2 linked regions of the Homo sapiens genome follow. The protein of the gene in region 1 interacts with the protein of each later gene in a biochemical or structural test. Each region holds a gene or a part of one and is shown on either strand. Other genes may lie near its edges.

Region 1 (3,925 bases):
TTTGGTGATAATTTTTGCAATAATATGGAATTAGGACAAACCCTACAATTATTAATGATCTTCTCTGCTAAGACTATATATAGCTCAATGACACTTTTATTATCAGAAGACAGAAATTCCATGGTAATAAATCAGAGAAAACCTTAATGTGAATTTTCACATTAAATTTTATAAATGCCAATATACTGAATAAAAATAAAACAATAAAGCTATTATTTGTTTTTAATATGGACTTATTCCTCTATACTAGTAGTAAGCAGCCAGGAAAACAGATGACTGTACCACTTTTTTTGTAGGTTGGATAAAACCTTTTAAATCTATCTTTTCCTAGCAACCCCCTATTTCTTTCTCACTTTTTAGAAAAATTAAAAAGTTCCTAACAGTTATTTTTCCAACTGTTGAAAAAAACTCGTTATTATAAAACTGTTCAAACATATACACAAGTAGACTACTATAATGTGCCCTTATGCCCCTACCATCCAGTTTCAAAAATTACCAATATGTTGCCATTCTTGTTTCATCTATTCCCTAGTACCCTTGCATCCCACCCTTCCCAACCAGAGTATTATTAAAACAAATACATTATTTCTCCCAGTAAACACATCAGTATTTAAATAAAAATAACCACATACCATTATCACACCTAACTACATCAGTAATAATTCCTTCATCTCATCTAATACCTAACCTGTCTTCAATTTTCCCTGGTTGTCTCAAAAAGAATTTATACTTGATTTGTTCAAATCACCAGCCTATTTCTTAAATTAAAAACACAGAATGATCAGTATTTTAACAGCTTTACATGACTTATGTTTTTTTAAAAAGCAATGAATACCATTAAAGAGACATTTAATAATTTTGGTTCCATTGTGATTTACACACAAAGGTGCCCCTTTCACTTAAAAGCTTACGTATTTATTAGAAAGAAGGTCCCCATTTCCTCCCATCAATTTAACCTAAAAATAAGCAGGAAGGGATAAGCAGTAAAGTGACTACTTTGGTACAAAACTATAAAAGTATGAGATCAGATATAATATAGCACACAGTTGTTAAGAATATTCTGTTTGCAATCAGATTAGCTTATTAGCTGAGTGACTCTGTGCTAATACCCTCTCTGAGCCCCAAAAGTTAGGGTTATTGAGAGGATTAAATGGGGGTAAAACATATGAGGTGTTTAGAATAATACATGGTACGGCCAAGAAACATTAGCTAATTACATATTATTATTAAGGGTTAAGTGTAAAGAAACTGAGAAGAATAAAAATAAAGTAAGTTTATATAAGGGACAAGGCGGAACAAATCTATAAAGAATTCAAGGCAATCATAGTAAAGGATAATTGAAGAAAAAACTAAGCAAGCAATAAAAAGTTATTATCAGAGTATACTGATTATAATAAATTATATGTAACACATCTTCCTCCCAAAATTTCAGGTGAGTAGAAGTATACCTTTCCATAAGGTTAATATGGCAATCACTCAGCAACTGACTCAACATCTCCCATCCTGGTATAAAATACAACTCTTTACTTCTTGACTTACAATCTGCTTTTTGTCTAGTTGTTTCCCAACAGAACTGGCAATCATGAAAGGGCTTTAAAGGGCTTAGAGAATGATGTCACTAGTATTTAGGTCAGTATAGAAAGTTCAAGTCACTGGGCCCCAATCTGCACTTTCTAATCTCTATGTAAGCCTCTTCTACAAAAGTCCTCACCTATGAGGGTAAAATAGTTATTTAAAATACAACCAGGCAGTAGCAGAGGGTTGTTATGAAGGCTCATGGTAAGTTCATAAGCTCAACAACTTTTAGGCCACGCTAATGCTAACTGCACTTTTAGTGACTTTTAGATCCCAGCTGAACTATCATGATAATCTTTTCTACCTTATGGTAAGCCTACTTCACCCATTAAGTGCTTAAGGATAAACTATTATTAGAATCAGAGAAACAGGAATTGGAAGAGAGCCCAAAGATCACTTTTGATGAATGAGGAAGGTGAGGACCCTGACGTGTAATGCTTATCTAAGTTAACAAAAAATAGTGCATGGTTGAACTGATACCAGAACTGAAGTTCTCTTAACTCAAATCCCATAATTTTTCCAAGTCAGAAGCAGAAACGAGAAGGGTGTAGTCTTTGTCCCATGCAACAGTCAGGATTTCTTTTCCTTTTTTTTTTTTTTTTTTTTTTTTTTTTGAGAGAAAATGTCTCCCTCTGTCCCCCAGGGTGGAGTGCAGTAGCACAATCTTGGCTCACTGCAACCTCCCACCACCAAGGTTCAAGCGATTATCATGCCTCAGCCTCCGAGTAGCTGGAACTACAGGCATGTGCCATCATGCCTAGCTAATTTTTTTCTTGTATTTTTAGTAGAAACGGGTTCGCCATGTTGCCCAGACTGGTCTTGAACTCCTGAGTTCAGGCAATCTGCCTGCCTTGGCCCCACCAAGTGCTAGGATTACAGGTGTGAGCCATGGCCAACAAGCAGGATTTCTAATAATCTTATCAGCTTATCTCAGCACCTATGTTCTATATGATTTACATGTGATAACTCAGTTAATCACTGCAACAACCCTATAATGTAGGTATTGTTATTATTCTCAGAAGGAGCCAATGAGTCAGACAGGGATTTAAATAAGAAGCCCAAATTAATAAAATTAGTAAATAGCAGTCAGGATTTAAACCTAGCTGTCTGGCTTCAGAACCAAAGCTTTTAACCAACTATGCCAGTACGTAATGAAGCACAAAGGAGCTTATAAAAAGGCACACCAAATCTATCAGAGAAGATGCAGAGGGTCAGGGAAGCTGTTTAGAGGAACTAAAGATGAGCATATAACCCTTCACTAGGACTTCATCCCAAGAGCAAATGGGAAGCTACTGGGGCTTTCAAGTAGGACAGATGATCAGGCTGCCTTTTATAAAAAGTTCACTCTAGTTGCAGTGTACAAAATGACTTGAGAAAAGCAATGCCCAAAAGAAGACAATCAGCTATGAGGTTCCGGAAGAAGCCTTGAGCTAAGAGACAGAAGGGAAGGGTCATGGCTGAATTTAGGAGAACTTAATGACATTAATAATAGCAGGAACTAGGGGCTTATAATATGTGAGGGGAGGGGAACAAAGGGAAAGGAAGAGCATACGATGGTTTTTGTGTTTTTTCACTTGAGGGACCAGGCAGATGAATGGCAATGTTATATACTGAGGTCAGGGAAGTCAGAAGCAGTGTTAAAAGACATTTTAGAGGAGAGGAAGATAACTTCTATTTCAAATGTGAGTTTCCAGTACCTATGAAGCACCCACATGAGGTAAGTCATGTATACAAACATACTTTGAGGTATTGAACTCAGGAAGAAAGTGTGAGCTAGATATTACCTGGGGGTGACACCAAATAGATAACCCAGTGAATGAGAGAGGATAAAAACCTTCTTAAGGGAGAATACAGAATGATAAAAGGGACCTTAGGAATCCAATATTTAAAGGTTAGGCTAAAAGATACAACATAAAGTACAAAAAAAAAAAAAAAGAAAGGCATAAAATAGTGAACATGGGGAGTAAAAATGCTACATTTATACATATGCATTTGAGAAACGGACTTGACATAGGTAGAAATTTGGATAAATTCAGGACATGTTAATACTTCAGACATTTTTTAATTAAGGGGTACAATCTTTCTATAAGTGTACTGTATTAAATGGCTACCTGCCTATCTTGATTTAAATAGCTGTTACTCTTTGTATTGGACTGGTTAATGGTGACTAGGTATCAAATATCACAGGGACTGTGCAGGTGGCAAGGACAGTCTTTGGATTCTGGAAATAAGACAACAGAAGCCACAACAAACCCTTTTTTATAATGAGGACATATAATCAATAAACAAAAGACAAGTACTTCTTTTTTTTGTTTTTGAGACAGGGTCTTGCTCTGTCACCCATACTAGA
Region 2 (3,925 bases), on another chromosome or scaffold:
CCTACTACTCAAATTTTATCCACAAAAAATCACTTTAGAGACATGAAAACTATGAACCAAAATGTTTAAATGACTTGGTCAAGGCCACATAGTCAGTAAATGACAGAGCACTGAAATCTAGTCTTTGACCACTTCTGTAATATCTGAGAAACATACTCAGAAAAATTTTTTTCCTCTTATGATTTGCTTCTTTATCCTAACATGGAATGTAAATGGAAAAGTTTGTAGACTAAAGGAGTTAACTGATGTTTTAGATGTCTGAAGACTTCTAAAAGAGATTATGTACCTAAGCCGGGATTTCATCTATCAGGAAGGCAATGCTTAACAGGACACAAGGGCTAATTAAGGCCTTTCTAAAAGTTTAGACTCCAATCAAATATTTACTGAAGAACTAAAATATAAACACTATTGTGTAAGACTGTCAATATAATTTCCATTAATAGAGTAAATAATCTTTTTATGTAGAAATATCTTTATTTTGTACTTATATGTACAAACGCCTACAATTTGACTTGTAGGAGCTATAGAAAAGCAAAGCATCTAATTAGAATGAGAAAATAGTGTCTAATCTCTTGAATCATCCTACTAGTAGCATTTAACTTAATATATAATTACAAGACTAATTTAGGCTGGGTACAGTGGCTCATGCCTGTAATCCTAGCCCTTTGGGAGGCTGAGACAAGAGGATTGCTTGAGGCCAGGAGTTTGAGACAAGCCTGGGCAACATAGCGAGACCCCTCTAGAAAAAAAATTGCAAAAAACTTAGCTAGGCGTGGTGGCACGAGCCTGTATTCCTAGCTACTAGGGAGTCTGAGGCAGGAGGACTGCTTGAGCCCAGGAGTCCAAGGCTGCTGTGAACTATGATTGCAGCACTGTACTATAGCCAGGGTGACAGAGTGAGACCCTATCTCCCCCAAAAAATTTTATTATTAAAAAAAGATCAACGAAGTATGCACACCTGCTATGTACCATTACTACAATGAGTAAATATTGACCTGTTCATAAAATCATCTAGTGGCTGGCCTAGAGGAATTAGTACCCTCTGCAGATGGTATTCAATTGAGGCAGCTAAGCTTGCCACTGTAAGAAAGTATGAGAAGATTAAGATCTTTTACTAAATGAGCACCAAAAAACTTTAAGGTACTTAAAAAAATTTGGTCTTGAATTCAGTTTTTAGTTGGCTATCTTATAAAATCTTGACTAAAGTTTAGACAAAAAAAAATAATAATAATTTTCCAAAGACAAACATCAAGTGAAATATCCCTATAACAATATGAAATAACGTACTTTAAAAACAACTTGGTTTTCGAATTTTTCAATTAATACTAAAGGCTTCTAACTTAAGTTTTAAAATAAAATTCTGTCATCAATTGTTCATTAAAAGAACACATGCATAACACAAACTTAGCAGCTTGGAAGAAAGAAAAAATAAAAGAACACAAGCCACAAATAAGCTGTAGTTCATTCAGATAAAAATAAATGATTTCATAAAATTTTTGGGAAAAAAATTTTAGTTAGCAGTTTGTCAACAATAAAAATCCTGAATGTTGTTATGTTCTCCAATAGGATTAATAAAAACACAATATTTCAGTGTTTAATGACTACAGTCAAGTAGAAGAAACAAAAGTAAAAAGGTAACTTTTCTTCTAGATTGTAAGGTCATTAGCAAAAATCTACAGAACTCTAGGAAAAATGAAAAAGGCAATCTTTTAAAAATGAAGTTTCACCAGAAACTTAAGAAGCAAGGGCAAGGCTTAAAAAAGAACCAAAAACCAGAAAATAAAATGTGCCAGCGGCATCGATCCTACGTAACTCAATACAGAAGAAAACATTATGAGAGTGATATAATACTTTCAATCAGATCAAAATACAAGTTCTTTCCAAAGGTAAAAGTAAAAAGCAGAAACAAGTTCAAAGAAATTACAAAATAAATTATAAAAATTCTAATATTTTATAACTTTTTATCCAGGTGATTTGAACACACTGTACCTTCTCACCTTACTCTAGGAAACTCTGGTTTTATTACACCAAAAAGTGTGTAACATTTGTCTAAGACAGTTGAGAGGGCTGACCAACACTGAACAAGGTAAAGGAAGGTTCTTTTTGTTTTTTTATGGAAAAAAATTTTTTTTTTAATTTTACTTTAAGTTTTAGGGTACATGTGCACAATCTAAGGGGTTATCACTCCTTACAGCTCTCAGAGGTATTGCTTGTTAAATTTCCCTCCTAGATTCAGGATTCCCCATGAATCACAAAGAAAGCAATTTTGTGAAAACAATCCAATTACATGCAGAAAACATGTGTGCACTGACACATGTGCACACACACACATGAACAAAACTGGTCGACCTGCTAACTCCCCATTGGCATGGCTTTGAAATCATATATGGCAAGAGGTAGATGTGGAGCTTTCTGGTCATTCTCCTGGGAAACTGTAGAGCACAGTCATGAATTGCTTAACAACAGGAAGCATTCTGAGAAATGCATTGTTATAGCCAATTTCATTGTTGTGCTAACATCATAGAATGTGCTTACACAAACCTAGTCAGTATAGCTAACTACATACCTAGGCTACAAAGTAGAGCCTGTTTACTCCTAAGCTACAAACCTGTACAGCATATGACTGTACTCAGTACTGGAAGCAACTGTAACACAATGCTATCTGTCTATTCTAAATATATCTAAACATAGAAAAGGTACAGTGAAAACACTGTATAAAAGATAAAAAATGGTAAACTTTATAGGGTACTTATCATAGGACATTACTATACACTACTATAGACTTATAAACACAGTATATGCTTAGGCTACACTAAATTTATCAATTTATTTTTCTGCAATAATAAATTAACTTGGCCAGTCCCAGTGGCTCACACCTGTAATCCTAGCTATTTGGGAGAGTGAAGTGGAAAGATTGCTTGAGTCCAGGAGTTGGAGGCTGCAGTGAGCTATCATCATGCCAGTGCACTCCAGCTTATTTATTTTTCATTTTTGAGACAGGGTCTCACTCTGTTGCTCAGGCTGGAGTGCAGTGGCATGATCATGGCTCACTGCTGCCTCAAACTCTTGGGCTCAAATGATTTTTCCACCTCAGCCTCCTGAGTAGCTGAGACTACCTACAAGGCATGTGGAAACAAACCTGGCTATTAAAAAAATTTTTTTTGGCTAGGTGTGGTAGCTCATGCCCGTAATCCTAGCACTTTGGGAGCCCAAGGTGGGCAGATCGCTTGAGGTCAGGAGTTTGAGACCAGCCTGACCAACATGCTGAAACCCCATCTCTACCAAAAATACAAAAATTAGCCAGGCGTGGTGGCAAGTAATCTCAGCTACTCAGGAGGCTGAGGAGGAGAATCGCTTGAACTTGGGAGGCAGAGGTCGCCGTGAGCCAAGATCATGCCACTGCACTCCAGCCTGGGTGACAGAGCAAGAGTCCACCTCAAAAGAAAAAATAAATTTTTTTTTGTAGAGATGGTGTCTCACTATGTTGCCCAGGCTGGTCTCACATTCCTCCTGCCTTGGCCTCCCAATGTGGTGGGATTGTAGGTGTGAGCCACTGTGTCCAACCCACACTCCAGCTAGGTGATAGAGTGACACCCTGTCTCTTAAAATAGATAAAAATAATATACAGAAGACATAAAAGCAGAGGTTAATGATTAAAAAAAAGAGCTAGGTAAGTTATCCCCTCTTTTTTACATATAAATTCAGAAACTCTTTTAATGCTGTTTACTAATGACATTATAGCCACTGTGTCCAGCCTGTATTCCAGCTAGGTGACAGAGTGAGACCCTGTCTCTTAAAATAGATAAAAATAATATACAGAAGACATAAAAGCAGAGGTTAATGAGTTAAAAAAAAGAGCTAGGTAAGTTATCCCCTCTTTTTTACATATAAATTCAGAAAATCTTTTAATGCTGTTTACTAATGA

Evidence for each region.
Region 2: the proteins of TLK1 (region 1) and NEK1 form a complex in vitro, tested with the Homo sapiens proteins (one study listed by BioGRID).

What each region holds. Positions count from the first base shown.
Region 1 is NC_000002.12:171,007,131-171,011,055, forward strand, and holds part of TLK1 (serine/threonine-protein kinase tousled-like 1), read right to left. Parts: intron 1-3,925. UniProt on the Homo sapiens protein: Rapidly and transiently inhibited by phosphorylation following the generation of DNA double-stranded breaks during S-phase. This is cell cycle checkpoint and ATM-pathway dependent and appears to regulate processes involved in chromatin assembly.
Region 2 is NC_000004.12:169,402,659-169,406,583, forward strand, and holds part of NEK1 (serine/threonine-protein kinase Nek1), read right to left. Parts: intron 1-3,925. UniProt on the Homo sapiens protein: Phosphorylates serines and threonines, but also appears to possess tyrosine kinase activity. Involved in DNA damage checkpoint control and for proper DNA damage repair.